Linked DNA regions of Homo sapiens. The protein of the gene in region 1 interacts with the protein of each later gene in a pairwise test. Each region holds a gene or a part of one and is shown on either strand. Other genes may lie near its edges.

Region 1 (15,330 bases):
GCAGATGGGCCGGGCATGGTGGCTCACACCTGTCATCCCAGCACTTTGGGAGGCTGAGGCGGATGGATCACTTGAGATCAGGAGTTCGAGACCAGTCTGGCTGATATGGCAAAACCCTGTCTCCACTAAAAATACAAAAATTAGCTGGGTGTGGCGGTACATGCCTGTAATTCCAGCTACTCAGGAGGCTGAGCCATGAGAATCGCTTGAACCCAGGAGGTGGAGGTTGCAGTGAGCCGAGATCACGCCACTGCACTACAGCCTGGGTGACAGAGCCAGACTGTCTCAAAAAATAAATAAATAAAAACTGCAGATAAAGATGATGAGACAGGAGTATTCTCTTTAGAAATCAGAGTGGACACAGACTTACTTTGCCTGCTGCTTTGGGAAATGGCTTAGATCCATCAGGCACAAGGTATGTAACCCATGGTGAAAACCCAGACTACCTGCACTCCTCACGTTAGTCCTAAGTTATATTTCTTCCTTGCCTTCAGAAAGCTGTCACAGCAATGGTTAACATTCCTTGAGGCACTAGGCTGTGAAGTGCTTCTCATAGATTATCTCACTGAAATCTGACAGCTCCCTAGGAAGACAGGTATTGTAACCACATGCTCATCAGAGTCTCTAGGCTACTCTCTCTTTTTTTTTTTTTTAATTTTAATTTTAATTTTTGTTTTATTTATTTATTTATTTATTTTTATTGATCATTCTTGGGTGTTTCTCACAGAGGGGGATTTGGCAGGGTCATAGGACAATAGTGGAGGGAAGGTCAGCAGATAAACAAGTGAACAAAGGTCTCTGGTTTTCCTAGGCAGAGGACCCTGCGGCCTTCCGCAGTGTTTGTGTCCCTGGGTACTTGAGATTAGGGAGTGGTGATGACTCTTAACGAGCATGCTGCCTTCAAGCATCTGTTTATCAAAGCACATCTTGCACCGCCCTTAATCCATTTAACCCTGAGTGGACACAGCACATGTTTCAGAGAGCACAGGGTTGGGGGTAAGGTCACAGATCAACAGGATCCCAAGGCAGAAGAATTTTTCTTAGTACAGAACAAAATGGAAAGTCTCCCATGTCTACTTCTTTCCACACAGACACAGCAACCATCCAATTTCTCAATCTTTTCCCTACCTTTCCCTGCTTTCTATTCCACAAAACCGCCATTGTCATCATGGCCCGCTCTCAATGAGCTGTTGGGTACACCTCCCAGACGGGGTGGTGGCCGGGCAGAGGGGCTCCTCACTTCCCAGTAGGGGTGGCCGGGCAGAGGCGCCCCTCACCTCCCGGACGAGGCGGCTGGCCAGGCGGGGGGCTGACCCCCCCACCTCCCTCCCGGACGGGGCGGCTGGCTGGGCGGAGGACTGACCCCCCCCACCTCCCTCCCGAATGGGGCGGCTGGCCGGGCAGAGGGGCTCCTCACTTCCCAGTAGGGGCGGCTGGGCAGAGGCGCCCCTCACCTCCCGGATGGGGCGGCTGGCCGGGCGGGGGGCTGACCCCCCCACCTCCCTCCCGGACGGGGGGCTGACCCCCCCACCTCCCTCCCGGACGGGGCGGCTGGCCGGGCGGGGGGCTGACCCCCCCACCTCCCTCCCGGACGGGGGGCTGAACCCCCCACCTCCCTCCCGGACGGGGCGGCTGGCCGGGCAGAGGGGCTCCTCACTTCCCAGTAGGGGCAGCCGGGCAGAGGTGCCCCTCATCTCCCGGACGAGGCGGCTGGCCGGGCGGGGGGCTGACCCCCCCACCTCCCTCCCGGACGGGGCGGCTGGCCGGGCAGAGGGGCTCCTCACTTCCCAGTAGGGGCGGCCGGGCAGAGGCGCCCCTCACCTCCCGGACGAGGCGGCTGGTCTAGGCTACTCTCTTAACTACTGTGTTATACTTCTGGGGTTGGGGGGCGGGGAGTAGTGGCAAAACTCTTGCATATATTGGCCTGTACACACCTCTGGGGAGATGATTGCGTTGAATCTGATGTCAGAGAACACAGCTTTAGATCTTGAAGGGGTTTTGGTTCAATCCTGTCTCTTGCAGTTGAGATACACTTAGGGCACATCAGTTACGAATGTGGCCTCTTGGACAATGCTATACCCAACTTGCCAGCCAGGTCCCAAGATGTTTAAGAAGTTAACAGTGTAAAAGAAAGGGAAAGAATGGAGTGGACATCATTATTTTCTTCTTTCGCAAGACTTAGAAAACAGCTGCCTGCTTTCAGGAAGGTAGTGTTTTTTCCTTTGGAATAAGGTGTGTGTGAGTATGTCCTGTTTCTGCTTCATGGTCTGGACTCTGATGAAATTGGCAAAGGCTTAAAGGAATAGGTGAAGGTACTCATGCCCCATGTGAAGGTCAAGTGTGGTGTCAGGCTGTCTCACAGGTAGTGCAAAGATATACCACATGGCTGAAAGTAGGATATGCAAAGTTGTCAACATCGAATTTAGTTCATATTTTTATGGGGCCATCTAATTCCCCAGTGCCCACTTCTGGGATTCCCTTTTTTTCCTTCTCAAAGCTTCACTCATGATCTTTTACATAAAAATTCAGGAAATTGATGCAGTTCTAAAAATGACATTGCATTTTGAGAGGCTAAACCCCTAAGAGGTGACTAACTGAAGACAAAGACAAAAAACTACCATTTGTTTCAACATATAATAAGATTCCCATTTTGTAGAATAGTTAAACCACAAAGTAAGGGCAATTTCTCTCTACATTCAACTACAGTGGGAAGAGTCTTCCCCATCCTCACCAGGATGCTGTCACTCTTCCGTAGCACTGAGAATGCAAATGCAGGACATGAACAGTAATGACAAGAAGCCAAACATGTGTATGTTTTACTGGAACTTCCAAGGACCTACAAAGAAAGGATAGATGGGATCAGACCTCAGATGTGCTGGAAAAACCACCTCTTTCCCTTTTTATTTATGTAGACTCAGAGTTGCTCTGCAAATTGCACCGAGAAGAACTGCAGTAATGTTTTACATAAAAGAGGAAACAACTTCTCTTCCTCCAGTGTACAGACTCTCCCTTCCTCACCTCTCAGTGCTCACCTTTAGGACAGCATATAAAGGAACTGAAGAGTTTCAGATTAGTTCAACCAACCACATAAACCATTCTGTTCCTACGCCTAGTGATTCATGGGGCCCACTCTATGGGCTGACTGTAATAAGAAGGAAGTGGGGGGGGGGAATCTCTCATCTACATTTTATTGTGGGGGTTCTTAACCTTTGGTATTTCACAGCAGGTGTATAAATTTCTAAAGCTTCCTACATACCTAAAGAGAGAGTAAAAACAGGCAAAGGGTCAGTAGCAGGGCAGGAGTAAGATAAGTCTCAGGCCGGGTGTGGTGGCTCAAAGCCTGTAATCCCAGCACTTTGGGAGGTCGAGGTGGGAGGATCACTTGACCCCCCCCAGAGTTCAAGACCAGCATGGGCAACATGGTGAGACCTCGTTTCTATAGAAAAAAAAATTTTTTTAAAGTCAGGTATGGTGGCACATGCCAGTAGTCCCAGCTACTCAGGAGGCTGAGAAGGGAGGACTGCTTGAGCCTGGGAGGTCAAGGCTGCAGTGAGCTGTGACTGCACCACTGCACTGCAGCCTGGGTGACAAAGATCCCATCTCTAAAATAAAGATAGGTCACAGAAGAACAAAAGAAGAAACTGGGAAGAGGCTTTTGAAAAGCATTTGAGAGCAGAGAGAATAAATAAAGCAAAGACCCTTGCGAAAGGAATGACTCAGCTGTTCAGGATGGAGGTCTCAGGAAAAGAGGCAGGCCCAGATCTGCCTACTCATCTAGCAGGATGGAAGGAGGACACTGATACATAGTGGGTTGATAAGAGGCACAGTCTAACAGTCTTGGTGGTGGTCAAGAGGGACAAAAAGGAGAGGTACAGGAGAAACAAGACACATCTGTAGTATGATCGCACAAATTTGCTGGAGAAATCCTTTGTTTAAGTCTCTCTACCACCAAGCAGCCAAAAACTTTTTGTTGAGGTCTTCATTCCTAGAGTTAACTTCCCACCTGGAGGCGTAAGATTATTATTAGTATCTGAGGGAAGCAGAAATGTCCTGAGGGTGATTTTATAATGAACTGCCACTTAGGAATTTGCCACACAGCCTTCAAAGCACTTTTAGGCTCTCAGATGGCAATCTAAATGAAAAAGCAAGGACTTTTAAATTTTTTTTGAATTACAATGTTAGCACTCCTAGGATTCTTTAATCTTTCTTACCCACAGAGAATAAAGCTACAGGTATGGTTTGACTGCAAGAACAAACAGCAGGTTCCACTGCTGTGCTTTTGTCACATTTTCAGTGGTTCATATAATGCAGTTATCCCAGTACAGCTTTTATTAACATTTTTTTTTAATTTTTGTTTTTTGGAGACAGGATGTTGTTCTGTCATCCAGGCTGGAGTACAGTGGCAGATCATAGCTCATTGCAGTCTTGAATCCCTCGGCTAAAGTGATCCTCCCACTTCAGTCTCCTGAGGAGGTAGGAGTACTGGTGTGCGCCACCACCCTATGCTAATTTTAAAATTTTTTTTGTAGAGATGGGGTCTTGCTATGTTGTCCAGGCTGGTCTTTAACTGCTGGGCTTAAGTGATCCTCCCACCTTGGCCTCCCAAAGCACTGGGATTACAGGCATGAGCTACCACACCCAGCCTCAGTATGGTTTTTTGACGCAGTCAGAATTCCTCGGGAGATTTTAGGTTACCAGAAATAGCCAATGATTGGGTAAGAAGATGCCTACTGAACACATTCAAGATTTCAGTTCAGGCCGGGCATAGTGGCTCACGTCTGTAATCCCAGCACTTTGGGAGGCTGAGGCGGGTGGATCATGAGGTCAGGAGTTCAAGACCAGCCTGGTCAATATGGTGAAACCCCATCTCTACTAAAAATACAAAAATTAGCCAGGTGTGGTGGCGGGTGCCTGTAATCCCAGCTACTCAGGAGGCTGAGGCAGGAGAATCACTTGAACCCGGGAGACAGAGGTGGCAGTGGGCCAAGACTGCATCACTGTACTCCAGCCTGGGTGACAGGGCAAGACTCTGTCTCAAAAAAAAAAAAAAAAAAAAAAAAGATTTCCACCCAGTTACAAATTAGGTGTTGAAAAAGCACACCTTGCATATTACCTACTGCAAGGCTCTGATGTGTTATGAACATATCACCGAGACCATTCAGTATCAATGGAGAGATTTCCCCAGCATGTGTGGAAGCTTACACTGAAGGAAGAGCATTAAAGCAGATTGTTTTCTACTTAATCCTAAAGAAAAAACCCACAACATCCAGCAGTGACATGTATAATTCTTTTTTTTGAGACAGAGTTTCATTTTGTTGCCCAGGCTGGAGTGCAATGATGCAATCTTGGCTCACTGCAACCTCCACCTCCTGGGTTCAAGCCATTCTCCTGCCTCAGCCGCCTGATTAGCTGGGATTACAGGCATGTGCCACCATGCCTGGCTAACTTTTGTATTTTTAGTAGAGATGGGGTTTTGCCATGTTGGCCAGGCTGGTCTTGAACTCCTGACCTGAGGTGATCCACCCGCCTCAGCCTCCCAAACTGCTAGGATTCCAAGCATGAACCACCACTCCCGGCCTATAATTCTTGGGTGTCTAAACTATTACCAATGAATACAACTTTAGGTTTCTTCTCCCTTTAGTTATCTCGTCTCTTCTCTCTAGATTTAAACTTAAGCAAGCAGAAGCCTCTGGGATTCTGTACTGACTAGAATAATTCACTGCTTCCTTCTTATTGCGAGTCCCCGTCCATCATAATCCTCCCTGGATCATGCTGAATAAACAGCTGGTGACTTGAGATGGGGAGAAATTCTACAGAGTTTCCTTGCCTGAGCCTTTCAAGGGCTAAGACTCAAAATGTTCAACTGCCTAAAGCAATAAACACCAAAAGAGGTTAAATTTCGAATTTGCTTTTCGCTTATCTAGCAGTGGACAACTAATGAACCCAACAATCAGGCAAAATCTGAGTTAGAAACATTTAGAACTGGAAATTGACCTTAAGGATAACATAATTCAATTCCTTCACCCTTCAGTGAAAAAACAACTTCCTCTTACAGGAATTGCTCCTAGTTTTCCCGCTTATAGTCTGGAATGTTTATCCCCAGAAGGAGAGAGCTTTTTAAAAAAGGAACATGCTGGAAAGAGGATACTCAGACCATGGCTGACAGAACTTGTAGGAACCTCACTTGGAGGTGGTTTCTACTGTGGTTCTACTGTGGTTTCAGTTAGGTCGCAAGGAGAGGTGACCCATCTACATGGTCATCCATTCATGGGTACAGTTTTATTTTATGACCGCTCCAAGCCTCTTAGGACACTCCACAGTGTCTTTGTTATTGTTCCTTGTGTTTGGTGCTTCTCTCTGAAAACAGGATTATACATTCCTGGCCTGTTAAATACAGGCTGGCCATGTGACCTGCTTTAGTAAAATCTGAGTAGCCAAGCGAAAAATGTTAAAAATTGTGTACCATGTTTTCCTTTTTCTCTTTGAGATTCACAGTGTTCCAGATATGGGCTGCTTTGCCCACTGGGATCCCTGCATGAAGCTGTTTTGGAACAGAGCTACAGCTGGCTCCTGGTGGATACACAGCATGAATGAGATCTAAAACTTTGTTTTTGTAAGCCTTTCAGATTTGGGGTCATTGATACCACAGCATAACTTAGCCTCTCCTGACTGAAACATCCTCCTTATTAAGTGAATCAAAAAAGTATAAAAAGTGGCCAGGAGTGCAGGCTCACGCCTGTAATCCCAGCACTTTGGAAAGCAAAGGTGGTGGATCACCTGAGGTCAGGAGTTTGAGACCAGCCTGGACAACATGGTGAAACCCCATCTCTACTAAAAATACAAAAACTAGCCAGGCGTGGTGGTACACACCTGTAATCCCAGCTACTCAGGAGGCTGAGGCAGAAGAATCACTTGAACCCAGGAGGCAGAGGTTGCAGTGAGCTAAGATCATGCCAATGCACTCCAGCCTGGGCAACAGAGCGAGACTCTGCCTTAAAAAAAAAAAAAAAAAATTATAGAAAACAACTCAGGTGTCAGCAACATAACAATGACTTTAGAATTATTTCACATTACATCTGGAGAACAATAATATTAGAGTTGACCTATGGGATGAAGAATGACCTATGAAAAGATAACTAGCTGGGCACTAAGGCAGTATGTGACTCAACTTTTATCATCTCATACAACTCCTGAATTCAGCCAAATTCTTACTATATTACCATACAATGCAACCATTAAGGTTAATTTGAGGGTGTATAAGATTTCTACAGCCTCATTTAATTCAAAGTCCAAGATGACAGCCACAATTCTTGGAAGTTAGTATTTTATAATTAATAAAGCAATGTAATATATACCAGATGTGAACGACAAAAACTAAACCAGTGACTTAAGTTACTGTTGACCAATGGGAGGAACAAAAAGTCAACAGTAATTAAACTATTTCAAACAAAAGTCTACTTGCCAGGTCAAGTATTGTGCCCATAATGGAATCAAGACCAAATATCCCAAACTAAAAGCAATGGGAAAAACTTGAAGGTCCCTCTAGTTTCGGGTATTTTAGCTACCTAAAAACCAAAAATAAAAACACCAGGAAAGAGGACAGACACACCTCCTCAGGTACAAACTGCAAGTTCAGTGACTTTGATTATTCCTAAGTTCTCCATGAGAAAATTCATCTAATAATTGGCAGTCTCTTTTGAGTAGGACAATACCATCCAAGTTTTTTTTTGTGTTTTTGTTTGTTTGTTTGTTTTGAGACAGAGTTCTGCTCGTCACTCAGGCTGGAGTGCAATGGTGCGATCTCCGCTCACTGCAACCTCCTTCTCCTGGGTTCAAGCAATTCTTCTGCCTCAACCTCCCGAGTAGCTGGAATTACAGGCACCTGCCACCACACCCAGCTAATTTTTGTATTTTTAGTAGACACGGGGTTTCACCACGTTGGCCAGGCTGGTCTTGAACTCCTGACCTCAGGTGATCCACCTGCCTCGGCCTCCCAAAGTGCTGGGATTACAGGCGTGAGCCACCACGCCTGGCCATCTTATTTTAGTTACAAAAATTTCTGGAGGATTTTGTTAAGTGAAACTATGCTAAGTGAAATAAGCCAGGTACAGAATGACAAATACCACATGATCTCACTTATATGTGGAATCTAAAAAAAGTTGAACTCATAGGCTGGGTGCAATGGCTCATGCCTGTAATCCTAGCACTTTGGGAGGCTGAAGGGGGAGGACTGCTTGAGGCCAGGAGTTCAAGACCAGCTTGGGCAACATAGCAAGACCCTGTCTTTATTTAAAACAAAAAAAAAAGTTGAACTCATAGAAAAAGAAATAGTGGTTACCAGGGGCCTTGGGGTGGGGGAGGAAGAGGAAGATAAGGAGATATTGGTCAAAGGGTACAAAATTTCAGTTAGGAGAAATAAGTTCAGGGTATCTATGGTACAACATGGTGAATATATTTAATAACAAAGTATTGGCGGGGATGGTGCTCATACCTGTAATCCCAATATTGTGAGAGGCCAAGGTGGGAGGATCGCTTGAACCTAGGAGTTTGAGACCAGCCTGGGCAACATAGTGAGACCCTGTCTCTATAAAAACCAAGAAAAAGACTGAAGTACTGTATATTTGAAGATTGCTAAGATAATGGATTTTAAGTGATCTCACCACAAAAAAAGAAGTATATAAGGTATTAGATATGTTAATTAGCTTGATTTAGTTATTCTACAAGGTATCCATATATCAAAACATCATGTTATATACCATGAATATAGACAGTTTCTGTCAGTTAAAAGTAAATAAAAATTTTAAAAAATTATCAATTCGTTAATTTTACCAAGTTGGGGCAAAAGCCTTTTAACAGTCCAGGAAATATTTAAAGCTAGTCAACAGCTTCTACAGAGATGAAGAACATTTTGTCCTAAGGGGTTTCTGTAGGGATCACCCCCATCTCTAGACTTCTACCTGGTAAACACGCCTTCCACTGGGTGATGAGATTAAGGTGATGGACTGTCGATCAACTAGGTCCAAGGCCTGGGTGGCTGATGAGCCAAAGAGAAACTTCAGCCTGTGAAATAAAAACACTTCAGATTAGAAGGCCTGATTCTCAAAGTCACCTCAGTAACTTGCCCAAAGGATCACTAGACTTAGTATTTTTTAAAAATTCATTTTAATTTTGAAAAAAGGAAAATAATACAGCAAAACCCATGGACCCATTCACTCCCCAGAATTAATGTTAATATCTTGTGTACTTATTTCAGATCTTCTTGTATTATGTATATATGTGTGTGTGTATATATATTTATTTATTATTATTATTATTTTTTGAGATGGAGTTTTTCTTTTGCTGCCCAGGCTGGAGTGCAATGGCGCAATCTTGGCTCACCGTAACCTCTGCCTCCCGAGTTCAAGCGATTCTCCTGCCTCAGCCTCCCAAGTAGCTGGGATTGCAGGCATGTGCCACCACACCCGGCTAATTTTGTATTTTTAGTAGAAACAGGGTTTCTCCATGTTGGTCAGGCTGCTCTCAAACTCCAGACCTCAGGTGATCCACCTGCCTCGGCCTCCCAAAGTGCTGGGATTACAGGTGTGAGCCACTGCGCCTGGCCTGTATTATATTTTTAATAAAGGGAGTAAACTGTTAGTGATAAAGAAGCCCTCTTTATACTTCTCTGTAGTGCATCCTTCTTCCTACCTTCCCCTTATCCCTGAGGCAAGCACATGCATTTGTTGGTTTCCTTCCTGTTAATGTGTTCATATTAAATATTATATATAGAACATATGTATGCACACATACATAACAAACACACGTGCATAGATGTATGCATATACATATATAGTATTGTTTTAAAACATAAAAGGTATATTGTAGGCTTCTTTTTGCTGTTCCTGAAATAGCTCATGAAAAATAAAAGAAAATATAAAATATCGTAGACTTCTTTTGGCAACTTGCATTTTTTTACTCAATGCATTTTTGAAAATGAGGCATGTTGACGGACATTTATTTTTACTTTACCTTTGAATAATATTCCATTATATGTATACACTGAATTTTATTTAAGTACTCTATGTATGGACATTGTTTCCATTTTATACTATTATAAATAATATTCAATTATCCCCATACATGTCCCTTGGCATACATCTCTGAAAATCCCCCTTTAGTTTATGTAACTAAAGCATATGTTCATTTTCAACTTTAATAGATATTGCCAATAGCTCTCCAAAGTGGAAACAGGAGTGGTGGCTCATGCCTGTAATCCCAGCATTTTGGAAGGCTGAGGCAAGAGGATCACTTGAGTCCAGGAGTTCAAGACCAGCCTGAGCAATGTAGTGACACCCCATCTCTAAAGAAAAAAGAAAAAAAAAAACTAAAACACACAAAAAAGTGAAAACAGCACTCCCACCAGCACTGTATAAGACTTCTATTTTCTCAGGCCGGGCGCGGTGGCTCATACCTGTAATCCTAGCACTTTGGGAGGCCGAGGCAGGCAGATCACCAGAGGTCAGGAGATCGAGACCATCCTGGCTAACATGGTGAAACCCCGTCTCTACTAAAAATACAAAAAATTAGCCGGGCGTGGTGGCACACGCCTGTAGTCCCAGCTACTCAGGAGGCTGAGGCAGGAGAATCGCTTGAATCCGGGAGGTGGAGGTTGCGGTGAGCCAAGATCGCGCCACTACACTCTGGCCCAGGTAACAGGGAGACTCCGTCTCAAAAAAAAAATAAATGAAACAAACAAACAGAAAAACCAACTTCTACTTTCTCCATGTCCCCACTAACACCAGTATTATCAGGCTTTTTTATGTTGCCCATCTGAAGATAATAAATGTGTACTTTTTGGATTAGTAATAAGGCTATCCAACTGTTAAATGATATACAGGAAAAAACTTTGATATGTGAGAAAATTCTTATAATATTAGGTGAGAAAGGTTGAAGACAAAATTATATTTTAGGAACTCTCAAGCATGTTAACTTTTTTAAAGGAAACCTACAATTATGTCAAAATTAAAAGTTTAATTTTTTTTTTTTTTGAGATGGAGTCTCACTCTGGTGTCCAGGCTGGAGAGCAGTGGCACAATCTCGGCTCACTGCAACTTCTGCCTCCGGGGTTCAAGAGATTCTCCGGCCCAGCCTCCTGAGTAGCTGGGATTATAGGTGCAGGCCACCATGCCCAGGTAATTTTTGTATTTTTTAGTAGAGATGGGCTTTTGCCATGTTGGTCAGGGTGGTCTTGAACTCCTGACCTGAGGTGATCCCCCCGCCTTGGCCTCTCAAAGTGCTGGGGTTACAGGTGTGAGCCAGCGTGTCTGGCCTTTTTGTTTGTTTGTTTTTTGTTTTTTGAGACAAAGTCTCTCTCTGTCACCCAGGCAGGCTGGATTCCAGTGGTGCAATCATGGCTCACTGCAGCCTGAACCCCCTGGGCTCAAGTGATCCTCCCACCACCTCAGCCTCCCTAGCAGCCGGGACTACAGGTATATACCACCACATCCAGTTAATTTTTTGATTTTGTGGAGACAGGGTCTCCCTGTGCTGCCTAAGCTGGTCTCAAACTCCCAGCCCCAAGCGATCCTCATATTACAGGCGTGATCCACCATGCCTGGCCAAAATTTAATTTTTTGAAAAGGCAATAAACCGGCCAGGCGCGGTGGCTCACACCTGTAATCCCAGCACTTTGGGAGGCCGAGGAAGGTGGCTCACGAGGTCAGCAGATCGAGACCATCCTGGCTAACACGGTGAAACCCCGTCTCTACTAAAAATACAAAAAATTAGCTGGGCACGGTAGCAGGCACCTGTAGTCCCAGCTACTTGGGAGACCGAGGCAGGAGAATGGTGTGAACCCGGGAGGCGGAGCTTGCAGTGAGCCGGGATCGCGCCACTGCACTCTAGCCTGGGTGACAGAGCGAAACTCTGTCTCAAAAAAAAAAAAAAAAAAGCAATAAACCAAAATTTAAGAGTGATTATTACTGGGTGGTATGATTATTGATGCTTTTTATAGGTTTTATTTTCCAATAAAAGTTTTTTATAAGTGTGGGTTATTATTATTATTATTATTATTACTGAGTTGGAGTCTCACTGTGTTGCCCAGGTTGGAGTGCAGTGGCACGACCTCTGCTCACTGCAACCTCCACCTCCCAGATTCAAGTGATTCTCCTGCTTTAGCCTCCCGAGTAGCTGGGATTACAGGCGCATCCCACCTCCCAAGGTGCTGGGATTACAGGCATGAGCTACCACACCCGGCCTAAGTGTGGGTTATTTTTATAAACTAGAAAATAAAATGGCAGGGTTAAACTCAAACTGAAAAGTTAATGTTTTAAAGAACTTATATGACTTAACACAGAGTAAGACAAACCTAGTAAGGCTTCAAAATTAAAATGTTCAACTTCTTACTTCATTTTCCAACAAACCAGCCACATATACAACAAATTATTGGGGGAAATAGAAAAGAGTGCTTTGAATTTTTATATTAAACATATGAAGATTTAGTCTATAAAATAACAAAATACAAAAAACAATGAAATAAAATTTGTCGGGAACCTTACCAATCAATCTCAACAGTTACCTTTAAGAATTTTTTTAAGGCCAGGTGTGGTGGCTCATGCCTGTAATCCCAGCACCTTGGGAGGCCAAGGCAGGCGGAACTCCTGACCTCATCATCCACCTGCCTCGGTGTGTGCCACCTGTAGTCCCAGCTACTCAGGAGGCTGAGGCAGGAGAATCACTGGAACCTGGGAGGCAGAGGCTGCAGTGAGTTGAGATCGCGCCACTGTACTCCAGCCTCAGTGACAGAGTGAGACACTGTCTGAAAAAAAAAAGAATTTTTTTAACCTGCTCTGTCCACTTTAATACCTACTGTGAACATCTCTTGAATGCATTAAAAATTTTTCCATATCACTTTTAATGGTTACAAATAATTCTACTGTAAAGATGAATCATTTTTATTCTCCTCAAACTCCATGAATTGTTAGATTGTTTCTATGTTTTATTGCTACCATAAACAATACTGGATATTCATCACACTGAGAATATCCTCACTGTAAAATCTTTACAAACATCTATAATTACTTCCTGGGTATATGTTCTTTTATGTGGAATTTCTGGGTCAAAGAATATGTATGTTTTAAAGTTCCTATTGCCTGTTACCCTGCAATTTACATTCCTGTTATAAATGACCCCTTTCCCCATATTTGTGTCAACTTCTTTTCTGTGGTCACTAATTTTCTAGATGAAAAGTTATGTTATGTTAATTTGTATTTTTGTGGTCACTAGTAAGATTTGTCTTTTTCCTCCCAAAGGATTCGGCTATTTACATCTTTTATTCTTTGCCCTTTTGTTTTTAAAGTAGTACATTTTTTTCCAGTAATATTTAATTCTTATTAAAAATTTAAGAAATACAGTAAAGGTTAAGGCCGTTCCCTCAATTCTACCTCCTTCCTTGCCCCAAAGAAAAAACACTGGTAGAGCTTGGTATATATTCTTCAGAACTTTTATTTTTTTAGAGACAAGGTCTCACATCACCCAGGCTGGAGTGTAGTGGCACAATCATAGCTCACTGCAGCCTGGAACTTCAGGGCTCAAACAGTCCTCCTGGGACAGGTTTTGTTTTTTTTTGTTTGTTTTGTTTTGTTTTGTTTTTTTTTTGAGACAGAGTCTTGCCTCTGTCACCCAGGCTGGAGTGCAATGGCATGATCTCAGCTCACTGCAACCTCTGTCTCCTGGGTTCAAGCGATTCTCCTGCCTCAGCCCCCCGAATAGCTGGGATTACAGGTGCCTGCCACCATGCCCGGCTAATTTTTGTATTTTTAGTAGAGACGGGGTTTCACCATGTTGGTCAGGCTGGTCTCGAACTCCTGACCTCAGGTGATCCACCCGCCTCAGCCTCCCAAAGCGTTGGGATTACAGGCGTGAGCCACCGCACCTGGCCAGGATTTTTAAATGTAAGTGTGTATCAGTAATTAAGTATTACTTATACCTAGGTAGCTTTTACTTTTTTGGTCTCTGCATTTTTAAAATAACTGACCACTCTATATTATTCTCATTTAAGTAGTTGTATCAACTGCAAATAATGATAATTGTCTTTCCTTGCAGATAGGTACATTTGTAATTTCTTTTTCATGTGTTAGTTGAACAGCTACGCTTTTTTTTTTTTTTTTTGAGATAGAGTTTCGCTTTTATTGCCCAGGCTGGAGTGCAATGGCATGATCTTGGCTCACAGCAACCTCTGCCTCCCAGGTTCAAGCAATTCTCCTGACTCAGCCTCCCGAATAGCTGGGATTACAGGAATGCACCACCATGCTTGGCTAATTTTGTATTTTTAATAGTGACAGGGTTTCTCCATGTTGGTCAGGCTGGTCTTGTATTCCTGACCTCAGGTGATTCGCCCGTCTCGGCCTCCCAAAATGCTGCGATTACAGGCGTGAGCCATTGCGCCCGGCCAACAGCCACAATTTTTAAAACAATGTTAAATAAGAGTGGCAAATATGACAATACTGGATATGGTGTTGGCTATTCAATTGAGACAAATTTTTAAGAATCATGTCAAGAAAATATTATTCCTAGTTTCTAAGAGTATTTTTTATTTTTTATTTTTTTTGAGATGGAATTTTGCTCGTTACTTAGGCTGGAGTGCAATGGCACAATCGCAGCGAGATATGCAACCACAACCTCCCGGGTTCAAGCAATTCTCCTGCCTTAGCCTCCCAAGTAGCTGAGATTACAGGTGTGTGCCACCACATCCCACTACTTTTGTATTTTTAGTAGAGACAGGGTTTCACCATGTTGGTCAGGCTGGTCTTGAACTCCTGACCTCAAGTGATCCACCCACCTCAGTCTCTCAAAGTGCTGGGATTGCAGGTGTGAGCCACGGTGCCTGGCCTTTTATTCTATTTTTAAAATTATTTTCGTAGAGATGGGGGGTCTCCCTATTTTGCTAGAGCTGGTCTCGAACTCCTGGGCTCAAGCAATCCTCCTGCCTTTGCCTCCCAAAGTGCTGAGATTACATGTGTGAGTCACAGTGCCTGGTAGTAAGAATATTTTTATTTTTTATTTTATTTATTTATTTATTTATTTATTTATTTATTTTTGAGACAGAGTCTCACTCTGTCCCCAGGCTGAAGTGCAGTGGCATGATCTTGGCTCACTGCAACCTCCACCTCCCAGGTTCAAGTGATTCTCCTGCCTTAGCCTCCTGAGTAGCTGGGACTACAGGTGCCCACCACCACGTCCAGCTAATTTTTTGTATTTTCAGTAGAGATGGGGTTTCACCATGTTGGCCAGGATGGTCTTGATCTCCTGACTTCATGATCCACTCACCTTGGCCTCCCAAAGTGCTGGGAT
Region 2 (15,539 bases), on another chromosome or scaffold:
AAAAAAAAATTGTGGACATAGGGTCTCACTATGTTGCCCAGGCTGGTCTCAAACTCCTGGGCTCAAGCAATCCTCCTGCCTCAGTTTCTCAAAGTCCTGGGATTACAGGGTGTTAATTCTTCTTAAATGTTTGGTAGACTTTACCAGTGAAGCCACCTGGTCCTGAATTTTTCTTCGTTGAGACTTCTTGTTAATAGGGTCTCTAAAGTGCATTTGTAAATTCCCAGTAATTTAAGCCTAATTTTGTGTCACTAAAGCAAATGATAATGTGCTGTAAAGTTGTGGTGAGTGATTTTCATTTAAAAGTTCATTTTAGAAATTTAAAAAAAAATTTATTGTACCACTTTGCCTCAATAAAGCAAGTTTGGTACACCCCAGATACGTGTTAGCCAGTAATAACTCCAGGCAAAACAATAAAAACTCTTAAACTCCCAACCAAAACAAAGGCAACCCATTTTAAAAATGGGCAACTGATTTGAATAGATATTTCTCCAAAGAAGATAGAGAAATGGCCAAAAAGCACATGAAAAGATGCTTAACATCATTAATCATTATGGAAATACAAGTCAAAGTCAGTAAGATACCATTTCACAGCCACTAGCATGGTTAAAATATTTTTTAAAGGGGAAAATTATAAGTATTGGCAAGGATGCCCTCTAACATGGCTGTAGGGAATATAAAATGGTGCAGCTTCTGTGGAAAAGAGTTTTGTGGTTCTTCAGAAAGTTAAACCTAAAACTGTAAATATAATCTAGTCATTCCCCTCCTGCATATATACCCCCAAGTGAAAACAGGTGTTCAAACAAAACTTGTCCACAAATGTTCAGCGTAGCATTATTCATAATAGGCAAAACGTGGAAACAACACAAAGGTTCATCAATTGATTAATGGATAAACAAAATAGTAATCCACCCAATGGAATATTATGCAGCCATTAAAAAGGAATGTAAATTAATATAGCCATTAAGGAAAAACAGTATGGACATTGCTAAGAAAACTGAAAAATAAAACTACTATGTGATCCTGCAATCTCACTGCTGAGTATATACCCAAAGGAACTGAAATCTGTGTGTCAAAGAGACATCTGCACTGCCATGTTCATTGCAGCATTACTCATAATAGCCAAGATATGGAATCAACCTGTGTCCATCAACACGTGAATGGATAAGGAAAATGTGGCATATATACACAATGGAATACTATTCAGTTTTAAAAAAAGGAAATCCTGTCATTTGCCACATGTATGAAGCTGGTGGACATTATGTTAAGTGAAATAAGCCAGACACAGAAATACAGATACTGCTGATCTCACATGTGGAATCTAAAAAAGTCAAACTCATAGAAGCAGAGAGTAGAATGATGGTTATCAGGGGTTGGGGTGAGAGATGGGTAGGATAGGCCACATTTCAGTTAGATGGAGAAATAAGTTCAAGAGATCTATCTATTGTACAAGATGGTGACAGTAGTTAATAACAATGTATTGGGTGGGCACACTGACTCATGCCTGTAATTCCAACACTTTAGGAGGCTGAGGCAGCAGGATCGCTTGAAGCCAGGAGTTTGAGACCAGCCTGGGCAGCATGGTGAAACCCTGTCTCTACAAAATTAAAAAAAAAAAAAAAAAAGTCAAGTGTGTTGGCATGCGCCTGTGGTTCCAGCTACTTGGAAGACTAAGGCAGAGGATCTCTTGAGCCCAGGAGGCTGAGGATGCAGTGAGCCGTGACTGCATCATCGCACTCCAGCCTGGGCAACAGAGTGAGACCCTGTCTCAAACAAACAAACAAAATGTATCATATACTTGGAAATTGCTAAGAGTAGATTTTAAGTGTTTTCAACCACAAAAAACCTAAGTATGTGAGGTAATGCATGTTTTAATTGGCTTGATTTAGCCATTCCACAATGTATACATATTTCAAAACATGTTGTACAACATAAATATATACAATTTTTGTCAATTAAAAGATAAGTTTAAAAAGAGAAAGTGGGACTTTTGGCAGTGAGTAGGTAATGAGGGTAAATCCCTCATGAATAGGGTGAATGCCTTTAAAGAGACCCCAAAGGGATAACTAGCCCCTTCCACCATGTGAGTGAGAACACACTAGAAGTGCCATCTATGAGGAATGGGCCCTTACCAGACACTGTATCTGCCAGAGCCTTGATCTTGGACTTCTTAGCCTCCAGAACTTTGAGAAATAAATTTCTATTCTTTTTTTTCTTTTCTTGAGACGGAGTCTCGCACTGTCGCCTGGGCTGGTGTGCAGTTGTGCAATCTCGGCTCACTGCAACCTCCGCCTCCCGGGTTCAAGCGATTCTCTTGACTCAGCCTCCCAAGTAACTAGGATTACAGGGGCCCCACTACCACGCCTGGCTAATGTTTTTGTATTTTTAGTGGGGACAGGGTTTCACTATGTTGGCCAGGCTGGTCTTGAACTCCTGACCTCGTGATCTGCCCACCTTGGCCTCCCAAAGTGCTGGGATTACAGGTGTGAGCGACTGTGCTTGGCCTAAATTTCTATTCTTTTTAAGCTATGCAGTTATGGGTTGTTAGTTGATGGGTTGTTATAGTAACCCAAATTGACTAAGAAAACCAACTAAGGCCTAAGGCCTAACATAGGCCTGGCACATAGTAAACTTCAATATTTGTTTGTTGAATGAATGAATGCACATTCCTTGAATAATCTGCATTTGACTCTATTTTCCACTCCTACTTTTTATATATATATATATAAACCATTTGTATACTTTTGAGAACCTAGATCCATGGTTCTCAAAGTGTGATCAGGAAAAAGAGATAAAGTGAGATTCACCAAAGTTGAAAACCTCTGTGCTTTGGGCTTTACCACTTATTGGGTTTGTGGCTTTTTGCAAGTTATATAACATGTCTGTGGTGCAATTATCTCATATGTAATCATAATTGTACTTCACACAATTGTCATAGAGATTTTCTGAGATAAATGATAATAATAATTGCTAACACTTCCTGGGCACTTACTATGTATCTGCTGTGTTCTAACCCATCAGGTGAGGCACTATTTTCATTTCATATAAAGGGATTAACATTGCCTGCACATATAAATGTCATATTATTATTATTAACATTATTGTAGTCAATGATTAAAGAAAAGGCTGACAAGGCCTTTTCTTCCCACCCTGAGTGCACGGATCTCCTAGTCGGATGTTTTGTGGGAGACCACTGTGCAACAGCCTGTTACTCCGTGCAATTGCATCCAGTCCAGTGCTTCTCACAGGTGAGCATGCATCAGAGTCAGTTGAAGGGCTTGTCAAAACAGATTGCCAGGCCTTGTCCACCAGGTTTCTGATTCAATTGGTCTAGTATGGAGTCCAAGAATTTGCATTTCTGACAATTTCTCAGATGCTGCTGATGCTACCAGCCCCTCACCAAACATTTTTAAAATAATTATTTTATTGAAATATAATTCAAATACCATAAAATCACCCTTTAAAGTGTACCATTCAGTGATTTGTTACAATATTCACAGTTGTACAACCATCATCACTCTAGAACAAAGTACACATTTTTCTTAATTTTTCAATCTGTTTTAAAAATAGGTATACAAAACAACATAAAAAAGTAGAGATGGAGAAGTCCTCCTCCCCTCATCCCAATCACTTGGTTCCTCCCCTCCACCAGGTAACCCCTTTTATTTCCTATACATCTATTTCGATGTAGCATTTCTTCAAGCAGATATAAGCAATATATGGTCTTTTCCTGTTTTCTTGCACTAGAGAGGCAGCACACTATGAATCATATTCTGTCAATTGTTTTTTTCATTTAGTAAAGCTGGAGATCATTATGAAGGTATTACCATGGCACATTTAACAGTCTCCTTACTCTCCAAGTAAACAAATATATCAATTTTTTCTAGTCTTTTGCTATTGCAAACTATGCTGCAAAAAATACCCTTACATACATATCATTTCACATGTGTTATCATTTCATATGTGTATCCTCTAAAATTCAGGTGTTGCCAAATAGGCCATGAAGGCTCCTCCATCACTAATAGGATTAAGGCCCTTATAAGAGGCTTCACGCAGCATTCAGCTAGCTTGCTTTCTTGCCCTTCTGCCTTCTGCCATGTGAAGATGCAGCAGGAAGGCCCACACCAGACACCAAATGCCAGCTCCTTGATCTCAGATTTCTCAGAGTGAGAAAGTAAGTATCTGTTCTTTGTAAACTACCCAGTCTCAGATATTCTGTTATAGCAGCACAAAACAGACTAAGACAATATGTGTGCAGGTGTATGTGTAGGATTAGTTTCCAGAAGTAGGACTGCTAGCTTAAAGAGTAAATACACTTATAATTTTGAAGCATATTTGATAGGAGTTGCATAATTTTGTACTTTTGTTAGCAATACATTAGAGGGCCCTTACCCCAATATGTGTTGTCCAGGACTTAGATTTTAGCCAATATGGTAGGTGTGCAGTTTAAATTTGCATTTCTCTTGTCATGAGTGAGACAGTACATTTTTCATATGTATAAAAGCCATTTGTGTTCCTTTCTCTGTGAACTGCCCTTGTCCTTTGCCCATTTTCTACTGGGTTTCCCCCAAGGAATACTCTTGCTTACTCCTCCAAGAGTAATTTATACTTTAGGGGGCTGTTTCTATATAACATCAATATGAACTATTCTTTAATTTTGCCATTTGTCTTTGCCTACTGTGTTTTTTTTGCCATGCATAAATTAGGGTTTTTATGTAGTTGAATCGATCAATCTTTCCTATTACGACTAGGACATTTTGAGTCATAGTTGGAAAGACTTTCTCCCCTTTCCCCCACTCTAAGATTATAAAGGAATCTGGTCATGTTTTATTCTAATACCTTGACATTTTTTCACGTTTAAATCTTGGATTCATTTATAGCCTAGAGCACTGTCATCTACCAGACTAAAAAAGAATATGGATGAGTAGATTCTAAACATTTCTCCCCATATTAGATCTTTCTTTAAATACAATCTTGCCCCATATATAAGACAGATGGAAGAGAGCTGCCCTGAAGGTGCAGCAGAGACCCTCCTGTGAGTCACACCCTCCCCAGACTCCATGGATCTCCATGGAATCCTTAGGATGGCTGTAAGCAGAGTGAAGACCACAGATATCTGCAGAACAGCAACTAGGCCAAAAAGTTTGATGAGAAAAAAGTTAAAAGAAGGACTTTCTGGTTTGTCTTGATGTTTGCCATTGAGTGTTTGCTGAGGAGGAAATGAGGCAAGACTGGAGAGGACTTAAGAGACCCTTTCTGCAGGGGCTCATCTTTATTATCAACAGTTCCCTTTTGCTGAGTTCATATGTTCAAGTGAAAAATTCCTCATGATTCTACTATGATCTGATTGGTGTAGTGGAGAATGCATCGACCTTGGTATCACATATGAGTTCTAATCCTGAACAGTTACTAGCTGTGCAGCCTCTGGCAAGTCATTTCTGTTTCACAATTAGCAGTTCATCCATAGTAAATAACTGAGTACTTTGTATATGGAAGACGCTGTGCTAACTGATAGAGATACAAAAACGGAGAAGATAGAAATGGTATTACCTTACAGCATGGAGGTGGAACCACATGGTAAACAAATAACTTTCGTAATTATTTAGATTCTAATTGTTATAACATCTTCAACAGAGCATGAGGTCCTGCGGACATGGAAGAGCAGGGAGGTTCAGGCTTGCTAGTTTAGGGAAGCTGGCCACCAGGTTCAGGTTTGACAGGCGCATAGGAAATGGCATGGCAGAGGGAGGCCAGAGCCTTTTAGGCAAAAGGAAGAGCAAATGCTTATTAGACCCCAAGGCTGCAGGAGCTAGGCACGTTTGACCACCGAAAGGGAAGGCCAGTATAGACAGCATAAACCTCACTGTGGTGTCTGTGTTGAGAATGGATTGTATGTGTGTGCTGTGTGAGGGGCAAGAGTGGATTAGGGGACATGGGTTAAGAGCTACTAGCAGTCTGGGCAAAAGATACTAGTGGCCTGGGAAACAGTGGTAGTGGAGAGTGGACACATTAGTAAGACACACAAACGTGTTCACAAAAATTCCTAGGTTTCTGCGTGAGCTGTGGCCAGGTGGATGTCCATGCCACTACTGAGATGGCGAATTCTGAACAGGAGGAAGTTTGGAGAAAAACCCCAACATTTCGGCAGGACAGCACCTCCTGGTGGAGATGACAAGCGGGAGCCTCACCACAGGCCTGGTTGTGGGAGTGAAAGGGGGACTCCGGGCGCGGTCGGGTGCACTTACTGTGCTAAGACAGCAAGGCCCGGCGGAGGTGGCAATGGCAGACCTGGTTTCTCGGCGGAGTCCCAGTGGGAGGCCCGGTGTCCAAAATCCTCAACTAGATTGGGCATGCCGTTTATCTTGTTCCAACTGTTGACAGTAATGGCACTAGCAATAATGTCCTTCCCAGGCAAAGATGGTTTTTCTTCCGTGTTTTCAGCCACTGCAGAGTGGACATCTACTATGAACCAAGTATCTGCGGCTTTAGGTACCAGATTCAAACACAGAATGGTGGCAGAACAGGGACTAGGACGGAGAGAAAACCTGAAGATGGATCAACCAGGAAGCAATGCATTCTCACAGAGGCACAAAAAAATGCCTCTGAAACAGAAGATTCACCTCCACTTCTGCGTCCTTTTGAGGCAACTTTCTGAGCATCCTTTCCTCCTCCCCAGGCCAACGCTTTTCCACCTTGTTAAACTACCCGGTAGCTTTCTCCATGGGAGGCGCCTTCTTCACAGTACTCGGACCCAGTTACACTTGTGGCCTTCCCCGGCTTCTGCTGGGCCGGCTATGGTCGACGCCGCACCGTCTCAGGCCCACTTCTCCTGCGGGAGCGGCGGCCCCAGCGGAGCCCCTGTGCGCCACGGCGAACGTGATAGGAATGCAATCTTCCGCCCCTTCAGACTCTGGCACCCCGTAGCCTTTCCTCAGGCTCCACGAGTTCTCCCGGTGATGTGATGACCGACATGGCGTCTGGGCTCTGAACACAGACTTTACTCCTTCCCCCCGGCCCCGAAACATGGGGAAACCACACCCTCTCTGCTCCAGTCACCAGCAGCCACTCCCATTCCTTAAGTATCCATTATTGCATGTGTAGCCTATTGCATGTGTAGCCTACTTCTGGTTTTCATTTTTATTTAAGGTCAGTTGTTGCCTGACAACACAGACGACAGTAACTTAATTCGAAAGACAATACTTGGAGGCGGCCCCCGCTCCAGGCACCAGCCCAGCAGCTCCCCCGAACTCCCCAGGAGCTCGCGGGCGAGCAACGCCACAGCCCAGAGCGAGCTCCGCGGAACCCCCAGCCCCGGGGAAGGAAGCTCGACTCTCCGCGGGGCACTCCTTCCGGGCTCCGGGCCCGACTAGGCCATCCGGGAGGCCCTGGAGCGCCGGGGCCGGAGAAGCCCTGCCCCCCGCCGAAGCCCCGCCCTGCGCCCGAGCGCCCGCCAATGGCAGGGCGCGGTGCGGCGCGCCGAGGTGGGACGGCGGCGCGCTGAGGAGGCGGTGCGCTCAGGCGGCGCTCCCGGAGATGCCCCGCGGCAGCCGCGCTCGGGGCTCTAAGGTAGGCTCTGGGGCGGGAGTGGGCGCCGCGCCGTTTCCCGCGTTGCGGGGAAGCGGCGGGCCGGCGCGGGGCTGGCCCCGTTGTGCTGGGGTGAGAGAGGGTGGGCGTTGGGGGTGAAGGGCTAGGTGGTGGCGGGTCCCGTCTGCGCGCGTGGAGCAAGCCCGCGCAGTGGGGTACCGCCCCCAGGTCCGGCTCCGGTCCAGGCGTGCGGGCCGGGCCCTCAGCGGCGGTACGGAAAGCGAGGGGTGGGACCGCCGAGGGACGCAGCGGGCGGGAGCATATGTCCGCCTCGGGGGTACTTGGCCTTACTCTTGTCTCTTTTTGATTCTGGTGTAATGTACCAAACCGCAGGGAATCCTGGCGTGGTTTTACCCGTCTCCGCGGATAATCCACTGTCAACTCTGTCTCTCTTCCTGCCGCACTCGGAGGGGACTGTGCGGCTGACTGCCCAATCCGTGGGCACCGCGCTGCCTCGGGTTCCAGAACGGGAGCGGGTGCCTAGGAATCGTTGCTTGAATGGTGTTTGATTGCACCTGTATCCGCGAGTGCATCCTTTTTTGTTCTGCTAATTGTGCTTGTCATGGCATGTGTCCTTTATCGTTTTAAAGTTTCTTCTAACTTCCTTGCTTTCAAATACGTTTGTCTCATAGTAAAACGGTTTTTAAAAAGCAAACACAGGACCTCCTTTCTTGACTCTTGCCTTTACTTGAAAACTTCCTGGAAAAAATAGACCACATATACTGGTTCAACTTCTTTACCACTACCATGCTTTCTCGCTTCTCAAATACCATTGATTATCAGCCCACACTATCAGTTTTGTGACTGGCTTTAGGGAATAAAGAAATTCATTTCAGGCACCTCTTGATTATAAGATACAGTCTGATTTCTGAAGCATTAATGTGTGAAAAAAATCAAGGAAATATATAAATTTGCTAAATCCAGTGTAAGTTGTTTACTTGATCATTGGAGCGTTTGACACATTCACCACCTGCTTTTATTTCTTTTGGAACATCCATGATTGTTTTCCTGTCTTGCAACAGCTCATTTTCTTCTCTTTACTGTGTTCGTGCCATGTTCTAATTTTTGACCTTGTGCTTTTTCACATGTTCCATATTTGCTTTGGACAATGTCATACATTGAAGTTAACTATATAGATGACTTTCAGATCTATATTAGATCTTTCCCTAGAGCTCAAACTTAGTGCATCACATAATCATCATCTCACCCTTAGTCCTCCAGGCCCTAACAGTTTCTCTTGACTTAGAAATCTTAGTATTTTTGAATTGACGTTCACTTCTGGTCTCTTCATCTTGTCATTTTTCAAGACTCTTTTTTTTTACTCAATTTTTTTTAGTAGTCGTACAGTTGTCTATTGTGTAATACGTTGCTGAAAACTGAAGCAGTTCATAACAAATGTTTATTATATCATAGAGTTTCTGAGACTCAGGAATCTGAGAACGGCTCAACTAAGTGGTTGTAGTTCAGGATCTCCCACAAGGCTGCAGTCAAATAAAGGGTCGTTGGAGCTGGAGAATCCAGTTCCAAGCTCACTCACGTGGTTGTTTCTTGACAGCTGCATAGGGCAGCTCACAACAGGGTCCTGGCTTTCCCAAGAGCAAGAGAGAGAGCAACAAGATATCGGTCCCCGTGTCTTTTATAGCCTAAACTCAGAAGTGACATCCCATCTCCTGTCTATTCATTACATGGACCAACCCGGTACAATGTATGAGGAGACTATAGAGGGTCCCCAGGAGGTGGGGATCACAGGGGCCACCTTGGAGGCTGGCTTCCACAGTATTTCCCAGGAATTTATTTTTTGTTTCTGTCTCCCTCGGTCAGTCTCAAAAGTACTTAATGGTTGGAGTGTTGATGTGTAGTGCCGGCTAGCATGCTCCCATTCCATCTTCAGAGGTGACTTTCCCTTAGGCACTACTTTGATTATATTGTTAGTCCTCTATCTAAATCTCATTTTACTTCTTATTGGCTACATCATAATTTACTGCAGAACTTATCCTGTGTTTAGTGCTTTATATGTATTAACTAATTTAATTATTTTAACAGTCCTGTGAGGTAGATACCATTAGTCTCATTTTATGGATGAGGAAACTGAGGCTCAGCAGAGAGGCTAAGTAATTTGCCTAAGGTCACACAGCAGTTAAGGGAAGAAGCTAGGATTTGTATCCAGGTAGTCTGCCCCAGACCTTGCTTTTGTTCAGGCTCTCAGCCTGTTATTCACAGCCTCCATAATATCTGTGTCTTATTCCTTTACAGCTTTGCTCATTATTTATCTTATAGGTAAACTAGACTACTGCGTCACTGTACTTGCTTGCCCCTTGGTGGTAATTGCGTATGTTCTTGGTTTGGAATAATGCCAGTTCTCCCATTTCTGCTGATTGAAACCTTTTTTTTTTGAGACGCAGTCTCGCTCTGTCGCCCAGGCTGGAGTGCAGTGGCGCGATCTCGGTACAGGCGCCAGCCTCCACACCGGGCTAATTTTTTTTAAATTTTTATTAGAGACAGGGTTTCACCGTGTTAGCCAGGATGGTCTCGATCTCCTGACGTCGTGATCCGCCCGCCTCGGCCTCCCAAAGTGCTGGGATTACAGGCGTGAGCCACTGCGCCCGGCCATGAAATCTTAATCATCCATTGAGGCCTACTTCAAATCCCACCTTCTCCCAAATTATCCCAGCTATAAATGAACTTTCTTCTGTATGTTCTTGGTTTGGAATAATGCCAGTTCTCCCATTTCTGCTGATTGGAATCTTAGTCATCCATTGAGGCCCACCCCAAATTTCACCTCCCAAATTATCCCAGCTGTAAATGAACTTTCTTCTGTAGTCTGTGGAATTTTATGTAAATAACTCTTACTATTCCATGTCTTACATTAGGTTTATTTGTGTCTACACCTTTATTCCCTTATATTCTAGACATTTAAGATTAGGGACTATTTCTTCAGCCCATATTCCCCAGAATACCTGTCATATCCCTTGTATGTACTAGATATCTGATGAATTAATGAAAGGAGAACTAGTTTAGAAGATTTGCAAGTATTCCAGGTGTGAAGAAACAGGAGGAAATACCCTAGTCCGAAGACTCGGATATCTGCCTCAGCAGTACAGCTGAATGATTTTGCAGTTTTGGACAAGCCACACAGATATATCACGACTCTTAAGATGAAAGGTGGTGTGGTTATGGACTAAGGTGGTGGAATTAGGAATAGAATAGAAAGGACTGGGTTGACAGACTACAAATGGAAGGTGAGATTTAGGCAACTGCAATTGAAAGAGGAAGAGGAGGAAACCCATGGTGATTCAGAAAGTCGAACCTATGAGAAGTGAGAAAGTTGTTTGCCTCTTAACTGATGTTAGGATATATAGATATATCCTATATATCACATATATAGATATGTGGTATTTAAGTCCCAGGGAGATTAGGGCAGTCAGTTGCTCAAAGGCTGGGGTATCTTAGTTCTTTCCTCACTCCCCTCTCCTCCATGAGTTTCTCCTGCCCTAGCCCCTCACTATCCCTTAACATGCTGTGATTCTTCCCTTTGTGCCTTGTGTTCTCCCTTTCCTTATGAAGTAGCCAAGGACGACCACATATACTCCTGTTCTTGGGCAGCAGCTTGCCTTTTGAGATTTTCTTTTTTTTTTTTTGAGATGGAGTCTTGCTCAGCCACCCAGGCTGGAGTGCAGTGGCCCGATCTCGGCTCACTGCAACCACTGTCTCCTGGGTTCAAGTTCTCTGAATAGGGCAATATACCTAACATTGAGTTGTCGTTTCTTTATAAAATGGGGTTAATACCTATATTGCTGGGTTGATGTGAGGATTAAATTATGAGAATGCATGCGATGATATACCGAGCATATAAACACTCAATAAATGTTGGTGATAATGAAAGCAATTAATAATGAAACACCATGATAATTAAAGAAATCATATGAGGACAAAGATATTGTACATCCTCTACTGCTTTGTCTCTAGATTTCCCTGGAATTGCTGTCTTTCAGCTTCTTGAACAAGAAATAGGAAAAAGGCTCATTTTCAAGTTTTTCAGTGATGGCAGGAAATTCTCATAGTTATCTTGGTAGGAGTACCTCATGGTTCCAGTTTAAGGCCTTGATAGTCTCATTGAATGATTTACTGGTGGCTCTACATCTCAGAATTAGACTACTTAGTATTGACATCTCAGTTGTCTTTTTTTTTTTTTTTTTTTTTGAGACAGTCTTACTCTGTCGCCCAGGCTGGGGTGCAGGGGTGCTATCATGGCTCACTGCAGTCTTGAGCTCCTGGGCTCAAGTGATCCTCCCATTTCGGCCTCCTGAGTAGCTGGGACCACAGGCCATGCCACTGTGCCTGGCTAATATTTAAATTTATTTTGTAGAGATAGAGTCTTGCTGTGTTGCCGAGGCTGGTCTCGAATTCCTGACCTCAAGCCGTTCTTTCTCCTTGGCCTCCCAAAGTGCTGGGGTTACAGCGTGAACCACTGTGCCTGGCCTAGAGGTTGTCTTATTCCTCAAACCAAAGGGAAAGAGAGGAAAGAGAGCTTTTATTGAAAGCTTTCTATATGTCAAGCACTTTGCATAGAGTACCTCATTTAAGGGAAAACATGTTTTCTTTTTAGTCAAAATAATACATGTTCATAGGTAAGGTAAAATAGTACAAAAAAAGTTTGTTGTAAAACTCAGCAGTCCCTTGCACATCTCATTCCATTTATTTTTATTGAGATAACTGTAAATTCACAGACAATTGTGAGTAATATAGAGAATAATTGTTTTATAAACTAAATCTGGAGGCTGGGCCTTGCTAGATCAAAGTGTTGACAGATTTCATGTCTGGTGAGGGCCTGCTTTCTGGTTCACAGACAGCCATATTCTTACCATGTCTTTATATGGTGGAAGAGGTAAAGGAGCTCTCCAAGGTCTCTTTTATAAGGGCATCAATCCCGTAACTTCTAATCACCTGCCAAAGGCCCCACCTCCTAATACCATCAGGTGATCTGCCCGCATCGACATCCCAAAGTGCTGGGATGACAGGCGTGAGCCACCATGCCCGGTCTGAAGTTTTTTTTTTTTTAATACAACATAAAACTCTCATGATTTATCGAAGTTGTTGTGCATATCAGTAGTTTCTTTGTCTTTTTTTTTTTTTTTTTTGAGTTGGAGTCTCACTCTCTTGCCCAGGCTGGAGTGCAATAGCGCGATCTCGGCTCACTGCAACTTTCCGCCTCCCCAGTTCAAACAATTCTCCTGCGTCAGCCTCCCAAGTAGCTGGTACTACAGGCACCTGCTGCCATGCCTGGCTAATCTTTTGTATTTTAGTAGAGACAGGGTTTCACCGTGTTGCCCAGGCTGGTCTTGAACTCCTGAGCTCAGGCAATGCAATCCACCCACCTCGGCCTCTCAAAGTGTTAGGATTACAGGCATGAGCCACTGTGCCTGGCCAATAGTTTCTTTGTTTTAATTGCTGAGTAGTGTTCCATATAATGGATATACCAGAGTTTGGATTAACATTTATTATTGAAGGACCTCTAGGCTGTTTTCAGGTTTTGGTTATTGCAAATAAAACTGCTATAAACATTTGTGTACAGGTTTTTGTGTGAACATAAGTTTTCATTTCTCTGAGATAAATGCCTAAGTATGTAATTGCCAGAACCTATGGTAATTTGATGTTTAACTCTATAAGAAACTGACAAACTTTTCCAAAGTGGTTATATCTGTATAATTTTGCAGTCCCATTGGCAATGTTGTTATTCAGTTTTATAGATAATAAAATCTACCCTTTTAAAGTGGAAAATCCAGTGGTTTCTAGTATATTTACAGAGTTGTACAAATGTTCCTAATTGTAGAATATTTTCATGACCCCAAAAAGAAACCCCATAGCTATTACTAGTCAGTCACTCCCCATTCTCTCTTCCCTCATCCATTGGCAACCACTAAGCTACTTTCGGTGTGTATGGATTTGCCTATTCTGGACATTTCATATAAAGTGTGGTCATTTTGTGACTGGCTTCTTTCATTAAAAATAATGTTTTCCAGGTTTATACATGTTGTTGCATGTATCAGTACTTCATTCCTATTTATTTTGAATAAATTTTTTATTGCATGGACATACTGCATTTGAAAAATCCATTTATTAGTTGATAGACATTTGGATTATTTCCACCTTTGGGCTGTTAAGAATAATGTTGCTTTGAACTTTTTTTTTTAATTGAGATCCGGTCTCATTATATTGCCCAGGCTGGTCTCAAACTCCTGGCTGGGCTCAAGAGATCCTCCCATCTCAGCTTCTCAAGGTGTTGGGATTACATCCGTGAGCCATCGCACCTGGCCTGCGTTGAACATTTGTATATGCATTTTTATGTAGACCTAAGTTTTTCTTTCTCTAGCAGTGGAATTTTTGGGTCACATAATAACTGTATGTTTACATTTTGGATAACTGTTAGAATTTTCCAAAGTGGTTGCACCTTTTACAGTCTCACCAGCAAGGAATGAACATTCTAATTTTGCCACATTCTTGCTAACACTTGCCATTGCCTGTCTTTTACTTTTAGTCATCCTAATGGTTATGAAGTGTTACCTCACTGTGATTTGGTTTGCAGTTCCCTAATGAGATTGAGCATCTTTTCATGTACTTATTGGGCATTTCTGTATCTTCTTGAAGAAATGTTTATTCAGCTTATTTGGCTGCGTTTTCATTGGGTTATTTGCTGTTTTATTGTGGAATCACGAGTTCTTTAAAATTCTGTATACTGTTCCCCTATAAGATGTATGATTGCAGATATTTTCTCTCATTCTTTGGGTTTTCTTTTCATTTTCTTATTGAAGTACAAATGTTTTTAATAATTTTGATGAGGTCCAATTTGTTTTTTCTTTTGTTTCTTGTGCTTTTCGGTGTCATGTCTAATAAATCATTGCCTAAACCAAGGTCACAAAGATTTATTCCTATGTTTTCTTCCAAGAGTTACAGTTTTAGCTCTTACATTTAGGTCTGTGATTCATTTGGAGTTAATTTTTCTACACACTGTGAGGTAGGGGTACAACTTCATTCTTTTCGATGTGGATACCCAGTTGTTTCAACACTGTTTGTTGAAAAAATTGTTCTTTCTCCTTGAATTGTCTTGGCACTTTTTTGTTTTAATTGAAAATCAGTTGACCATAAAAGTAAAGGTTTGTTTCTGGTCTATGAATTCTATTCCACTGATCTCCATGTCTGCCTTTATTCTAGTACCATACTGTTTTAATTACTGTAACTTGGCAGTGTTGAAATTAGAAGTGTGAGTTTCTGACTTGTTTTCTGTTTTGAGATTTTTTTAACTGTTTTGGGTTCATTACATTTCCATATGAATAATAGCAGCTTGTCAATTTCTGCAGAAAGCCATCTGGGATTTTGATTTTGTTGAATATATAGACAAATTGGAGAGTATTATCATCTTAACAATATTATTTCCCATGAGCATGGGTTGTCTTTTCATTTATTTAGATCTTCTTTAATTTCTATCTATGTTTTACAGTTTTCAGTGAAAAAGTCCTGCACTTCTTTGGTTAAATTTATTCCTAAGAGTTTTATTCTTTTTGATGCTATTTTGAATGCAGTTCTACTGGCACATGCTGCTGCACGTGGCTAATATTTTTTGTTAATTTTTTGGTAGAGATGGAGTCTCGCTGTGTTGCCCAGGCTGGTCTCAAATTCCTGGGCTCAAGGGATGCTCCTGTTTTGGCCTCCCAAAGCTCTGGGATTATAGGCATGAGCCAGCCGCACCCAGCTCCATTGATTTTTTTAAATATTGAGATTGTATCCTGCAACTTTGCTGAACTCATTTATTGGTTCTAATAATTTTTTGGGTTTTCTGAAGTGTGGATTCCTTAGGATTTCCTGTGTACAAGGTCATGCAGCTAGGCATGGTGGCTCACACCAGTAATCCCAGCACTTTGGGAGGCTGAGGCGGGTGGATCACTTCAGCCTAGGAGTTC

The links.
Region 2: the proteins of ZSWIM7 (region 1) and SPIDR interact in binary tests that used the Homo sapiens proteins (3 or more experiments, as listed by UniProt).

What each region holds. Positions count from the first base shown.
Region 1 is NC_000017.11:15,978,309-15,993,638, forward strand, and holds part of ZSWIM7 (zinc finger SWIM domain-containing protein 7), read right to left. Parts: intron 9,061-15,330; coding exon 8,958-9,060; intron 2,837-8,957; coding exon 2,732-2,836; intron 1-2,731. UniProt on the Homo sapiens protein: Involved in early stages of the homologous recombination repair (HRR) pathway of double-stranded DNA breaks arising during DNA replication or induced by DNA-damaging agents. Required for meiotic progression, hence for fertility.
Region 2 is NC_000008.11:47,253,426-47,268,964, forward strand, and holds the start of SPIDR (DNA repair-scaffolding protein), read left to right. Parts: upstream 1-7,512; 5' UTR 7,513-7,533; coding exon 7,534-7,566; intron 7,567-15,539. UniProt on the Homo sapiens protein: Plays a role in DNA double-strand break (DBS) repair via homologous recombination (HR).